Homo sapiens: one gene and its partner. The protein of the gene in region 1 interacts with the protein of each later gene in a biochemical or structural test. Each region holds a gene or a part of one and is shown in the gene's direction. Other genes may lie near its edges.

Evidence for each region. Proteins that work in one complex are often made in the same cells at the same time.
Region 2: the proteins of EPAS1 (region 1) and USP8 form a complex in vitro, tested with the Homo sapiens proteins (one study listed by IntAct).

The regions. Positions count from the first base shown.
Region 1 is NC_000002.12:46,377,406-46,384,498, forward strand, and holds part of EPAS1 (endothelial PAS domain-containing protein 1), read left to right. Parts: intron 1-488; coding exon 489-682; intron 683-1,251; coding exon 1,252-1,362; intron 1,363-2,821; coding exon 2,822-3,312; intron 3,313-4,190; coding exon 4,191-4,317; intron 4,318-4,569; coding exon 4,570-4,684; intron 4,685-5,019; coding exon 5,020-5,193; intron 5,194-7,093.
Region 2 is NC_000015.10:50,420,240-50,427,404, forward strand, and holds the start of USP8 (ubiquitin carboxyl-terminal hydrolase 8), read left to right. Parts: upstream 1-4,165; 5' UTR 4,166-4,275; exon of another isoform or gene 4,276-4,415; intron 4,416-7,165. UniProt on the Homo sapiens protein: Hydrolase that can remove conjugated ubiquitin from proteins and therefore plays an important regulatory role at the level of protein turnover by preventing degradation. Converts both 'Lys-48' an 'Lys-63'-linked ubiquitin chains.

The DNA.
Region 1 (7,093 bases):
GCCGGAAGAGTGGTGCTCACCCTGGACTGTGTCAGCCCCTTTTAGATGGGTTCTACAGCGGCCACGTGAGGATTGCAGCTAAAGAGAATCTGAAACGCAGCGGGCCCTTGGCCAGTAGGTCTCGCGGCTTGTTTTGTGGCAGTACTGAGGCAAATAGCTCAATAGCCCAATTCTCCTCTCCCTCTCATACCTTCCTTGTCTACCCTTCCGGATCTGTTCCTCAGGGAAGAGTGGCTCCTAATATATTTAGTCTCTGAAAATTAAATGTCCCAGGAGACTGTTCCGTTTAAAGGGAGTCTCTACGTTGACTCATAGCCAGAGTCAAAGACCCATGTGTTCCAGCTGAGCCCCAGGGTGTTGGGGGGGCCTAGCCCCAGGCATGCCTTCCAGACCCTCTTAGGGCCTTCTCTGCGGTTTTTGGGCCTCCTCTGCCTTGGGGTGAGCCCGATGGTTGTGGGTGTTCACCTCCCAGGCCCTTGTCTCCACAGGGAATCAGAACTTCGAGGAGTCCTCAGCCTATGGCAAGGCCATCCTGCCCCCGAGCCAGCCATGGGCCACGGAGTTGAGGAGCCACAGCACCCAGAGCGAGGCTGGGAGCCTGCCTGCCTTCACCGTGCCCCAGGCAGCTGCCCCGGGCAGCACCACCCCCAGTGCCACCAGCAGCAGCAGCAGCTGCTCCACGGTGAGCAGCCCTCTTATGGCGAGGACACAGAGAGGGCTCCGTATGTATGACTGCTGCCAGATGGCTGAAGGGACATTTGGGACAGGTACTGTCCTTCTCAGGTTATCACAGAGCCCCCTAGAGTGGCCGTGACACTTACCTACCAGGTATCAGAGCTGTTTTCTTCCTTTTAGTGTTCATCCCCCAACTCCATTGAAATAAGCTCCTTGAAGGGCTTTGAGCCCCCAGCTCAGTCCCCATACAGGGCAGTAACATCCCGTATGTGGCACAGAGCTGCACAGTTTGCACAGCCCTGCTGGCCACAGCCTGTATCCTGTTTGGTCCTCAAGACAGGACAACCTGTGAAGCGACAGTAGCCTCATTTTATGATGAGGAGACTGGAATTTAGAGAGGTTGATGAATTGACCTAATTCATACAGCTTGTTAATTAGCAGCCCCTCTACAAATAGTTGTGTGGTGGAATGGAATTGAACCTTTGGGTCCAGGAAGGTATTTCTTCTTCCATGCTGGACTTCTGGGGAGACCAGTGCCATATCTTTGACTCTGTCCCCCTCCTTCCTGGCCCCTAGCCCAATAGCCCTGAAGACTATTACACATCTTTGGATAACGACCTGAAGATTGAAGTGATTGAGAAGCTCTTCGCCATGGACACAGAGGCCAAGGACCAATGCAGTACCCAGGTAGATGGCTGTGGAGATCAGGCTAGGGTGTGTGCCTGCTGTCTGGTGGACAGCAAAGGCTCACATCCATTCTTGTAGCCTCATCCCTTTGTTGTAAAGAGCAGTGGAGACGTTTGGCCAAGGCCCAGGTCCCCTAAAGAGGTAGGGGTACAGGGTAATGGAGCCTGTGGTCACCCCCTCCTCCCACTGTCAAATCCAGCTCTTCCAGCATATGTGTCTCCTACTTAGATAGCTTTCTTAGCACACATGAAAACCGAAATGATACCACTGCACCTTTCTTTAAACAGGCCCTACATTTAACAAGCATAGCCAGATGTATAAAACATGTATAAACATAGGGGACAATTAATCCCTTTATAAACACATTCATCTTGTGATTTTAAAAAAATAATCATTTTTATATGAAATGCACTTTAAAATAAATAACATCTGTTTGACAATTTTTCATTTACATAAAACTTTTCAGGAACACATTTATTACATAAGGCCAATGTTCTTGCAAAAACTATGTAAACAAGGATAAGGTAGAGGGAGGGGTACGTGTTTTACAAAACCCCAGGGAAAACCATTAATCCCCCATTTGTCTTAGTCTTGAGTTCAACCAGATTTCTGCCTTGCCACTTAGTTTGTTTCTTGATCCTACTTGGCACAAATCCCAGCTACTCTGCAAAACATGCCCAATTTTAGCTTTTCTATCACCCTCCCTCCTCAGCACTCCTGTAGTATATATCATGTGGCACTTAATCACAGCTATCTGCTTCTGCTCCTTAAAGATTGCTTAGTATTGCAGTCATTAGTCAGCTGACACCCACTGAGGGTGTCAGTCTCTGAAGTTAGAAACTGTTTTCCGCATCTGCTTGTATTCCCCTGCTTGTATCATGCGTCCGTCATGATACTGCCACCCTAAGGGATGATCTGAGTATCTGCTGATTGGAACCAAAGTCTCTGTCCCTGGGGTCTGGCTGTTAGGCTGTTACTCTGCGAGAGTCCACAGATGGACCTGGGCACTTACTGCTTGCTTAGGCCCGTGCCAGCTTACAGGAGGGAGAAGAGGACAAAAAAAAGCCACAGTGTGCACCACAGGCCTAAGCATTGTAGGACAAGGATAACCACCACAGGCTGGAGTAGGCAGGGCTGACTCTGTGGAAGAGGGGCTGCCTCGGCTTCAAGAGAGAAGGCGGGCTCCGGACAGGTGGGATGGGGAGAGGAGAACATTTCTCAATGTGCAGGGTGAAGAGGGGATAAACATGGGGGAAGGCTGGTACATGATACAAGGTCGTGTACATGACACAGCCAAGTCTGAGGTTTTCCTGATAGGCCCTCGGGAGCCAGTGGAGGCGTTTGAGCAGCACTGTGAAACAGTGCTTGAGATGAATGGCTCTGCAGGAGCTGAGTTGGAATAGTGTTTGTGAGGTCGTACCAACCCCCTTGCCTCTTTGCCGGTGCTGTCTCCCCTCAGACGGATTTCAATGAGCTGGACTTGGAGACACTGGCACCCTATATCCCCATGGACGGGGAAGACTTCCAGCTAAGCCCCATCTGCCCCGAGGAGCGGCTCTTGGCGGAGAACCCACAGTCCACCCCCCAGCACTGCTTCAGTGCCATGACAAACATCTTCCAGCCACTGGCCCCTGTAGCCCCGCACAGTCCCTTCCTCCTGGACAAGTTTCAGCAGCAGCTGGAGAGCAAGAAGACAGAGCCCGAGCACCGGCCCATGTCCTCCATCTTCTTTGATGCCGGAAGCAAAGCATCCCTGCCACCGTGCTGTGGCCAGGCCAGCACCCCTCTCTCTTCCATGGGGGGCAGATCCAATACCCAGTGGCCCCCAGATCCACCATTACATTTTGGGCCCACAAAGTGGGCCGTCGGGGATCAGCGCACAGAGTTCTTGGGAGCAGCGCCGTTGGGGCCCCCTGTCTCTCCACCCCATGTCTCCACCTTCAAGACAAGGTAAGTGGCAGATACTCAGCTGTACCAGCAGGGCCGAACCGAGAGGCACCCACTAGTAAGATAGCTGGACCCCCAGGGAGGCCCCTGCCCCTCTCCCCAGCCATCTGATACCCCATTTAGCCCTTCTCTGAGCTCAGACTTTGGGGAATCACCTCAAGCCATGTGAGGCCTAGTGTAGGATGGGTTTTTATCTGGGCTGCCACTGAGGGCAGGCAAAGAAGTGGCTTGTTGAGAGCCCTGTACCTCAGTGTCTCCCTTCGGACCACCACCAGAGTGCCTTTCGTATCTCGGTTCATCATCTGAGCCACACAGAAAATTGAGTGATGATTTTCCCTGGTTGAAAACAGCAAAAAGATACCCCTGCCTCCCCTTGCCTTTTGGCTGCCCCCGGGTCCTCGCCACTGCAGCCTCTCCCAGCTGTGCCTAGGCTCCAGAAATGCCTTCCCATCTCCCCAGCATGCTCATTTCACCAGCTGCGAGCTCACTGGGCTAAGGCACAGGGGTTGGTACATGACCTGCCACTCCCAGGGGCCGCTGGTACTTGCCCTTTATAGAGCAGCCAAACTAGTTTTCAGTGGGAGCAAAAGGCAGAGGAGAGACATGGGCAGAAGAAACCCTCCTAAGGACTAACATTGCCCAGCCAGGCAGCCATCCCCCAGACCAGGAGGCTTGAGCCCTTCAGCATCTTATAGCTGAGGAAGGAGACAGAGCTCGAGCTCGGCCTGCAGGTGCACAGCCTGCCTCTGAGACTCTGCCTTTTGGGTCTTTGAGTCATCACAGGCATCAGCATTGGGACTGGAAGGGCCCCTAAGATGAGAAGGCACTGAGTGGCATGTGGCTCCAGACTCCCTCATAGCCTGCTCTCTCGGGCTTGGCAGGTCTGCAAAGGGTTTTGGGGCTCGAGGCCCAGACGTGCTGAGTCCGGCCATGGTAGCCCTCTCCAACAAGCTGAAGCTGAAGCGACAGCTGGAGTATGAAGAGCAAGCCTTCCAGGACCTGAGCGGGGTGAGTCATCCCCACTGGCCACAGGGGCCTCTCCATAGCCCTTAGGGAACCCAGGGCTGCTGAGAGGGGTGGGGATGTGGCCCTTCCAAGCCAGCATAGCCCTTAGGGAACCCAGGGCTGCTGAGAGGGGTGGGGATGTGGCCCTTCCAAGCCAGCAAGTGCCAGCCCTGTTCCAGGCCCACCCAACCCACCCAGTCTGGGGACCTGGTTCTCTGGCCATTTCCCCTTTCCATCTGCCCTTCTTACTCCCAGGGGGACCCACCTGGTGGCAGCACCTCACATTTGATGTGGAAACGGATGAAGAACCTCAGGGGTGGGAGCTGCCCTTTGATGCCGGACAAGCCACTGAGCGCAAATGTACCCAATGGTGAGCAGCGGCCACAGGCCTGGGCCTCCTGGGGGTTCTGGTGGAAGGACTGGGGCTCGGGAGCCCATCCTGGTTCTTCCATTCACCACAGGCCGTACCTGCCTCTCTGAGCCTTGTTAGAATGGGGCGATGTCCTCTGTCTCTCCCGCAGTCCCACACACCCAACTTTTCCATCTCCACTCTGACTTAGATGATGCCATCAGAGGGTCCTGAAGGTTGGCTGTAGTTCTGGTGACTCTGAGCACCTTTTATAAAGGAAAGGGATGCTAGGGCTTCCTGGCCTCTCCCCTCCCTCAGGCCAATGCTACCGTCACTCTCTGACTTTGGTCTTTCAGATAAGTTCACCCAAAACCCCATGAGGGGCCTGGGCCATCCCCTGAGACATCTGCCGCTGCCACAGCCTCCATCTGCCATCAGTCCCGGGGAGAACAGCAAGAGCAGGTTCCCCCCACAGTGCTACGCCACCCAGTACCAGGACTACAGCCTGTCGTCAGCCCACAAGGTGTCAGGTGGGTGTGCCCAGGATCTGTCACCCCCATCCCAGGATTCGATGCCAGGGGAAGCCCACGTCTACTTTTTTTCCAGCGTCTGCACAGTGCCAGGCACAGGGAGGTGCTTGACTTGAAGTCACCTATACAGGGCTCAGGTCTCCTTGGATTTAGGGAACCTCCTCACAAGTTCCTTGTGACATCAGTGATCAGGCCCCCCAGTGGGTGGGTCTGAGACACAGCTAAAAAACTCAAACTCAGGCTAGAATACTGAAGGAAAGAATGCAGACCACTACCGACTGCCCAAAGAGGACTGAACACTGAACACTGGGTTGGCGACCCCCAGAACACTGTACCACTGTTGACAGGAGCACTTTCAGAAGAAAGAGCAGGCGGCCACAGTGGTGAGGGCCTGTTGAAGAAGAGAAGAGAAAGTTCAGAGAGAGAGAGTTGGGAAGCGGTCTGGGCAGAGGCAGGGGATCTCCCGTCTATGCAAGGATGAGCTTGCTGCGTGGAGAAGGGAGTGCTCCTTCCCTGGGGCTTTAGGGAGAACCCTCCCATGATCAGGTGCCATCCAGGGCTCTTTCCACCCTGAGAATCCCGGAGCCTTGCCCCTTCCTCAGTTCTTCATGTGGATGTGTTTTGGGGTGTCACTCTGAGTTCAGGCAGGTGCTGAGAACATGCCAAAACTTCCTTCAGGTAGAACAGCCTGGAAAGCTCTGGTAGGCCCACCCCACTGGACTTGGTTCAACTGCAGGCACCAATGCCTGCCTTCAACCCTGGGCCACCTTCATCTTGACAGTATCTTGTGAAACATATATGTCTTCATGAGGTTTGTTTGGCCTGAAAATAATTCGTGGTTTATGGAAAAACATACCAGGCCCCTGTTCTAAAAGGCAATTTCCTCAGCAATAGAGTTTGGGGAAGGTTATAGTTCTGTGCTTCAGAGTCCAGGCTGTAGAAACACCAGACAGCCCTGGCTTAAATTCTGGCTCTGCTGTTGAGTTCAGGGGCTGGTATATATTTATGTGCAGTAAGAGGTAGCCAGCACTATTCTTCCTGTTATGTGAAGCCCACGAATTACCTTGAATATTGAAATCAAGGGAAAATCATATTCTTTTCAAAAGAGTTGAATCATATCAAACTCTTTTCTGACCATGAATAAGAGAAGTTAGCAAGGGATGGTGAGCAGGTATCCATTGATACTGTCCACAGGAGCAGTCAAGCTGGGGAGGCAGGCATGGACCCCAGCAAGGATCTGAGCTAGGAGGTGCAGGAGGCAATGGCCACTGGAACGAGGCTCTGCAGATAAGGGAAGGTGGGTGGGCATCTCCCATCGGAGGGGCAGAATGCAGGGCTTCCAGGCTCTCTGCTGCCACCTAAGCCTTTCCTCCTTGGGATGGGGGCCTGTGTGTGTGCTGCGAGTGTCCCCCCTGCCACTCCCTGGTCTGCCTCCTCGGCAAGAGAATAGCACAGAGGCAAGAAGAAAGGACTGCTGAGGGTGGTGACCAGAAACTGGATTTTCAGACTGTTGAATCTTGAGGCAGTCTGTGTTTGCATCTGTATGTATGTGTGTGTTCTGCATGTTCTGTGTATGTGAGCATAGGTGCCAGGTGGTTCAGCCTTTCCTCCCTGCTGCCAGGAGGCATGGGGGTCAGCAACCCCAGGCTCTTCCTGAAGCTTCCACATACCTGTGCTGCAGCCCGCACCTCACGCTTTCCTCTTTCTTGGGTCTCAGCACCCCACCTGAGGCAGTGGTTCTGGAGGCAGACACGTTCCCCGGGCATGCAGCAGGCCGTGGGACAGACACCACTGAAGGAGCAGAGTGAAATTAGGGCTGCTCTATTGGTATCCCCCAGTCACAAAGAAGTAGACACTTTTCCAAATGTTCGATTTAGGCCTTTAAGTTATGGTACCAACC
Region 2 (7,165 bases), on another chromosome or scaffold:
ACATGCCCTAGTCCAGTGCTGTCCATTAGAGCTTTCTTTAATAATGGAAGTAGCCTGTATCTGCTGGTCAATAAGGTAACCAATAGTTACCAGGGGCTGTTGAGCACTTGAAATATGGATATTTTGACTGAACTGAATTTTTAATTTTACAACTAGCTGTGGTTACTAGTTACTGTATTTAGCAGCCATACTCAACAATCCTATAGGTCTATCTTAATTACTTTTATAGGAATGAAGAGTATTATAATTATTTCTCAATTATATATATTTGGTTTTAATTTCTACAGAGGAAGAGGACAACAAAGTTTTGTGAACTATTATTCATATAAGTTTGTAGTTGTTTAAGGAAAAGACTTCACAGAGAACAGGGCAGAGAGTAACACAATATCTGATTTCCAAAAAATTCAATCAAACTTTGATATGGATTTGGTCAAATCATTGTTTAATGGCCTCCTTAACATTATTATTAAACTGATTTATATAATTTGCTTTTTACTAATCAAATACATTGTTTTAAATCTTAATTATTTTTTATTATAAAAGTAATACACATTCAGTGTAACAAGTTCAAATAATCTCTCAGGTGGATAAAATACGGACATCCACCACACTGTACCTACCAAGATGCCCATACCCCAAAGATGATTGCTGTTAAACATTTAGAGTGCCTTTCCTGACTTTTTTGTCTAAGCACCTTTAAAAACCAATACTTTTGGTTTTCAGTGATAGCTCTGAATCCCCTTTAGGCATAGAGTGTGGGAAATTATATTTCTGCAGCAAACTCAGGCTCTGCAACATCAAGTGTGGATTCACTGGAAATTATTTGAAGTAACACTTAGAGATCATAGTAGCCAAAAAATGTTGGGAAATTAAAAAGGGGTTTTTAAAAATTAATTATCGTTATTATTATTTTTTTCAAAGAGACAGGGTCTTCACTCCATCACCCAGGATGGAGTTCAGTGGCGGAATTACAGCTCACTGAAGCCTCAAACTCCTGGGTGCAACCAATCCTCCTGCCTCAGCCTCCCAAGTAGCTTGGACTACAGGCATGCACCAACTGTGCCAGGCTAATTTTTTAATATTTTGTAGGGATAGGGTCTTGCTATGTTGCCCAGGCTGATCTCAAACTCCTGACCTCAAGCAATCCACGCACCTCAGCCTCCCATAGTGCTGGGATTACAGGAGTGAGCTCCCACACCCAGCTGAAAAAGGTTTTTGTGGAGGGAGTATGATCAGGAGAAAAATCATGGAATGTGCTCGAAAGAGATCTAAAGGGCCATGGAAGTCAAAAGGTTGAACTCCATAGAACAAAACATGAAGTATGGAAAGATTCTTTAAAAAACACTTGACTTTGGAACAAAATCCAAATTGTTCCCATGATTTCATTCTTTGACATTATGTTCATTTTGGTTATCTTAGTCTTTTCTCAGAATTCCTCTTTAACAGAGAATTATCTAAAAGCCCCTGGCTAAGTTAATGCTTATGACTATGGTCACAAATGGATGGCTTGGATTTTATTTGTTTTGCAGTGTTTGTAAATTTTTTTATGTATACTGTTGTTGTCAACTAACATAATCCGTATGTATATGGGTTATATATATATATATATATATTCCCCAAATTTAAAAACCAGTTTGGAGATTTTTCCCACACACAGAAAATCAGAAAATTGGCAATACTCTGCCCCATTACCACATGGCAACAATGTAGACAGGCCATGAGTTCTCCACATGGCCCTAATCCCCACCACTCTTAAACAAATCTAATCAGTTTTATGTATATTATATATGTATATTGCTGTGCTTCTCCTTCCTGCCTGACCCTGCAAGACCCCTGTCTCAGTCTCTCTCAACATGTCTGAAGGACTCGAGGGCAGGTGTCAAAGGTGAAGGCCCTCATCTGGATTTAATGTCCTGGACCTTGAAACAGCAGCTAGTGTTTTGAGCTCTAAGCTAACACTTTGGACTTTCTTTTTTTTTTCGAGATGGAGTCTTGCTCTGTCGCCCAGGCTGGAGTGCAGTGGCACCATCTCGGCTCACTGCAAGCTCCACCTCTCGGGTTCACGCCATTCTCCTGCCTCAGCCTCCTGAGTAGCTGGGACTACAGGCGCCCTCCACCACGCCTGGCTAATTTTTTGTATTTTTAGCAGAGATGGGGTTTCACCGTGTTAGCCAGGATGGTCTCGATCTCCTGACCTCGTGATCCGTCCGCCTTGGCCTCCCAAAGTGCTGGGATTACAGGCATGAACCACCGCGCCTGGCCACATTTTGGACTTTCAGTCATGTTTTCTTTCCCCAATGAAATAGAAAAGTTTTATTTCAAAGAGGAAAAGGGTGCAACAGCTGCAACATACATAAAACCTATTTAGTTTTACTTGGGAGTGGGAATCAGGAAACCTGGGTTCTGTTTTTGACTTAGTTTGGATAAAGAAGGGTAGTTAAGCTGTCCTTATGTCTCTTACCAAATGGAGAAAATACTGCTGTAGTTCACAGCAATTTGGGGAGTTTTAGATTCTATGGAAAATGGAAATCCTATTTGTAACTTAGATTTTTTCTTTGGAGAAGGAGTCTCGCTCTGTTGCCCAGGCTGGAGTGCAGTGGCACGATCTCGGCTCACTGCAACCTCCACCTTCCAGGTTCAAGCGATTCACTGACTCAGCCTCCTCAGTAGCTGGGATTACAGGCACGCGCCACCATGCCCAGCTAATGTTTGTATTTTTAGTAGAGACCAGGTTTTGCCATTTTGGCCAGGCTGGTCTCAAACTCCTGACCTCAAGTGATCTGCCCACCTTGGCCTCCCAAAGTGCTGGGATTACAGGCGTGAGCTACCGCTCCCGGTCTAATTTTTAAATTTTTGTTTTGTAGAGATGAGGGTCTCCCTTTGTTGCTCAAGCTGGTCTCTGTCTCTTGGGATCAAGGGATCCTCCTGCCTCAGCCTCCCAAAGTGCTGGGATTACAGGCCTGGGCCACTGCAACCTGGCCTTCATCACAAATTCATTGAACACACTTTCTTTATTTTATCCTTTTTTATTTTTAAAAATTTTTATTTCAGTAGTTTTGGAGGAACAGGTTGCATGGAAAAGTTCTTTAGTGGTCATTTCTGAGATTTTGGTGCACCCATCACCCGAGCAGTGTACACTGTACCATGTGGCACACACTTTCACTTAAAGCATTTACTAGACCTCGCTAGCCAGATTTCCCATCCCTGAGACACCTGGAATGTTCCTGAGGACTTAGTGACTACTGCCTAAAGCTCCACCCAAGTCAATTTTATGTTTACAGGCAACCGGAGCATCCAATCACCTTTCTCTAAGAGAGTACAAAGATCAGCTCGCGAGAAAGTTCAGACGTCTCATTTCGTTTCTATTACACGGGGCCTTCGCCCAACCAGACGGAGTCTTGCTCTGCTGCCCAGGCTGGAGTGCAGTAGCGCGATCTCGGCTCATTGCAACCTTCGCTCCCCGGGTTTAAGCAATTCTCCTGCCTCAGCCACTGGAGTAGCTAGGATTACAGGCGCACGCCACCACGCCAAGCTAATTTTTTGTATTCTTAATAGAGACGGGGGTTTCACCATGTTGGCCAGGCTGGTCTCGAACTCCTGACCTCATCATTTGCCCGCCTCGGCCTCCCAAAGCGCTGGGATTACAGGCGTGAGCCACCGTGCCCAGCCTCGCCGGGGCCTTTTAAGTGACGTTAAAAATTGTACATAAAATATGTTTTAGGATAATACTTGTTTTTCTTTGACCAAAGGCTTGGCTTCAGAGAATGTTTAGCCAGAAATAGAGGGGCGTTAAATCCCCTTTTTTCTAATTTCCAATCTGAGGAGGAAAATAACGTAGTAAAGGGACGCAAGAGCAACCTTGCTTCTTCCACAACAAGGCCCAGGCGCCGCCTTGCAACCCGGAAATGCAGGGTGCAGTGCGGGGGGTAAGGGACCGGCCAACTATGTTGACCCGACTCAGAGAAACCCCGCCCTTGCCGCCACCGCCCACCCATAACGTCCTCCTCGACCCTCCCTCGACCATCCCTCGCCCCGCGGCCCTCACCGAAAAGGGGAGGGCGGTGGAAGAGAGAGGAGTCAAGGGAGCGCACGCGAAGCCCCGCCCCTGCCGTGACGTCTGGAGACGCGACGCGTCGCCTCGCAATGCAAATCGGGAAAAGGGGGTGAGCTGGGCTGGCTTCCGTCCTGGTAGCCAAGGCTAATTCTCCCTCGAGTTCTTGGGAGATGGGCATTTGGCGAGAAGGCTGGCGTTAGTGAAGCGCGCCCGGCGTCACGGTGAGTGCGGGTCTTGGGCCCTAGCACCTGTTCTCTGGGAAGTCGTCCGCTGTGAACGATGAACGCCTTTCCTTCCACCAGCTGCTGGTTACCCCGGAGACAAGCTCTGTCCGCGGAGAGGAGTGGGACAACTCCTAAAGGTAGAATCAGCTTGTGGAGAGGAAAGGCCCAACCTTGAGTCTTTTACGCCATCTACCTAGGATTGCCAAGCGAGTTTCGTGTGTTTTTTTGGTTTTAAAAGGTGGCTTTGACCAATCTTCCGTTCTCTTGGACACTTATACCCGACTTTGACCTCTTTCCTCTTGCTTCCGGTTTTTTTTTTTTTCTGCAATCTGCCTACAATCCCAGGCCTTACTGTAGCTCCTAAAACTGTTTCCCAGTTTCTCTTCTTCCCCAGTCACACTTGATTTTAGTGAAGTTTGAGTTTAAAGACCCTATAAGCTTGTCAGAGTTAAAACTATGACTTCCTCAAATAGAAGATTTTTTTTTTTTCCCCTAAAAAGTGCCTTCCATCCTAGAGTTGTGGGACAAGTTAATTTCACCGCCACTCCACCTTGGAAATTATCAGAATCCTTACTAGCAGTGATGTGCATTATAAAGCTGCAGACCACCCTCCTGGGTTTATTTCTTGCCTCCAGTTCATTCTGTGACCTTGAACAAGTCACTTAATCACTAACAAAAAATTTACCTGACACGGAGGTGTTGCAGAGCCTAAGGAATTTAGTATTTGTTAAGAGACCTGAGGGTTTCAGATGAAAGGGATTTATATCTAAAGGATGTTACCTTTTCTGAATCTGCAAAGCATCGTTAGTTTTGTAAATATCTTGCTGCAGCCATTAAAAATGCCAAGTGGTATTTGTTAAGGAAGTATTCCTGTTTTAGGCTTGCTCTGCTGCGGCTTTGCTATGTAAGCAGATTTTTGCATTTCAGCCGATTCTGTTTAAGATTCGTTGGTGAATGTCATTCATGATGGATTTGGGTAGTTTCTCCTTACAGCATATCCCTGGACTATTAAGCATATCTGGAAGGTGATATCGGTTGTGTTATGTCTTTATCATGTTGATATGGCTGCTTTGAAATATGTATTCCTTTTCTTGTGACACATTGGATGCATCTTTAATATTAGTGAAGACCCTGTAGTAGTTTAAAAAAAAAATACACCTCTCATTAATGAAATTTTGCACATAGACATCTGTTTTTTTAAGAAAACAATGTATAAGAAAAACTAACAAAAATGTTTTAAAGGTGCCTTTTTTAGCATTTCGTTTTTTAATATATTTACTTGGACTTTAATCTTTATGGGCATTTGTTTATTAATGTGGACGTGGCTGGGCGCAGTGGCTCACATCTGTAATCCTAGCACTTTGGGAGGCGGAGGTGGGCGGATCACTGAGGTCAGGAGTTCGAGATCAGCCTGGCCAACATGGCGAAACCCGGTCTCTACTAAAAATACAAAATTAGCTGGGCGTGGTGGTGCACGCCTGTAGTCCCAGCTACTCTGGAGGCTGAGGCAGGAGAATCGCTTGAACCTGGAAAGCGAAGGTTGCAGTGAGCCGAGATTGCGTCATTGCACTCCAGCCTGGGTGACAAGAGCAAAACTCCGTCTCAAAAAATAAAAAATAAAAAGCGTGGACATAATGGAAAATAATCAAAATGACTTTTGGGTAAGACAGTTGGAAAATAAAGCCAGTACATTAAATTTTTTTCATAAGTCTAGCACTATATTACGAACTTTTCTCCATGAAAATGCACTCATATTTATGGAAGTGAAAGGAAAAAAATGTCTTCAGGTATGTGTTGCTAATAAAATTAGATATAATTAAGGAAACATTTAAAAAATACCTTGTTGTTGTCCCAGTTACCTATTGCTGCATAACAAATCACTCCAAAACATAGTGACTTAAAACTGTAATTTAGTATCTCTCCTGTTTCTCTGGCCTGCCTGGACTTAGCTAAGTGGTTTTCACCTAGAGTTTAATGCGTTTGTATTCAGATAAGCAGCTGAGTTTGGAGTCAACCGAGAGCTCAGCTGGTCTGGACATCCAAAATGGCTAATTCACGTGAAGGCGTTTGATGTTGGCTAGGAGTTCAGCTGGAAATGTCAACTGGAATGCCCACACATAGCCTCTTCACGTGACTTGAACAGTATGGCGGCTAGGTTCCGAGAATACATGTTTGAGGAGTCAGGAAGTAGAAGCTGCCAGTCTCCCAAAAAGCCTGAGCCCAGAAATTCGCACAACATTACTTCCAACATACTCTGTTGGTTAGAGCAAAGACCAGCGTACAACCCTCACCTTTGAAAGGAAAAATGTCAAAGAATTTGTGGCCGTGCTTTGCCTACTATAATTTTGATGACAAAGTTGTATTGGACTCTTGTTTGCATTTATATAGCAGATGAAGAATCAGGTACACTTCCAATTTCCAGTTTCTTTCTTTCTTCTTCTTCTTTTTTTTTTTTTGAGATGGAGTCTTGCTCTGTTGTCAGCCTGGAGTGCAGTGTACGATCTCAGCTCACTGCAACCTCTGCCTCCTGGGTTCACGCCATTCTCCTGCCTCAGCCTCCCGAGTAGCATGTCACCAAGCCCAGCTAATTTTTGTATTTTTAGTAGAGATGGGGTTTCACCATGTTGGCCAGGATGATCTTGATCTCTTGACCTGTGATCCACCTGCCTCAACCTCCGAAAGTGCTGGAATTACAGGCGTGAGCCACCGCGCCTGACCCATTTCCAATTTCTTTAACCGTAATACTTTATGTTGTAATGGCATATTACAGTTTTCAAAGCATGTTTTTGTATATTTTTTCACTTGATACCTATGGTCACCCTATAGAAGCAGACAAATAGTTCCTATTTCATTTTGCAGATGAAAGTAAACTGAAGAGTGGTGGTGG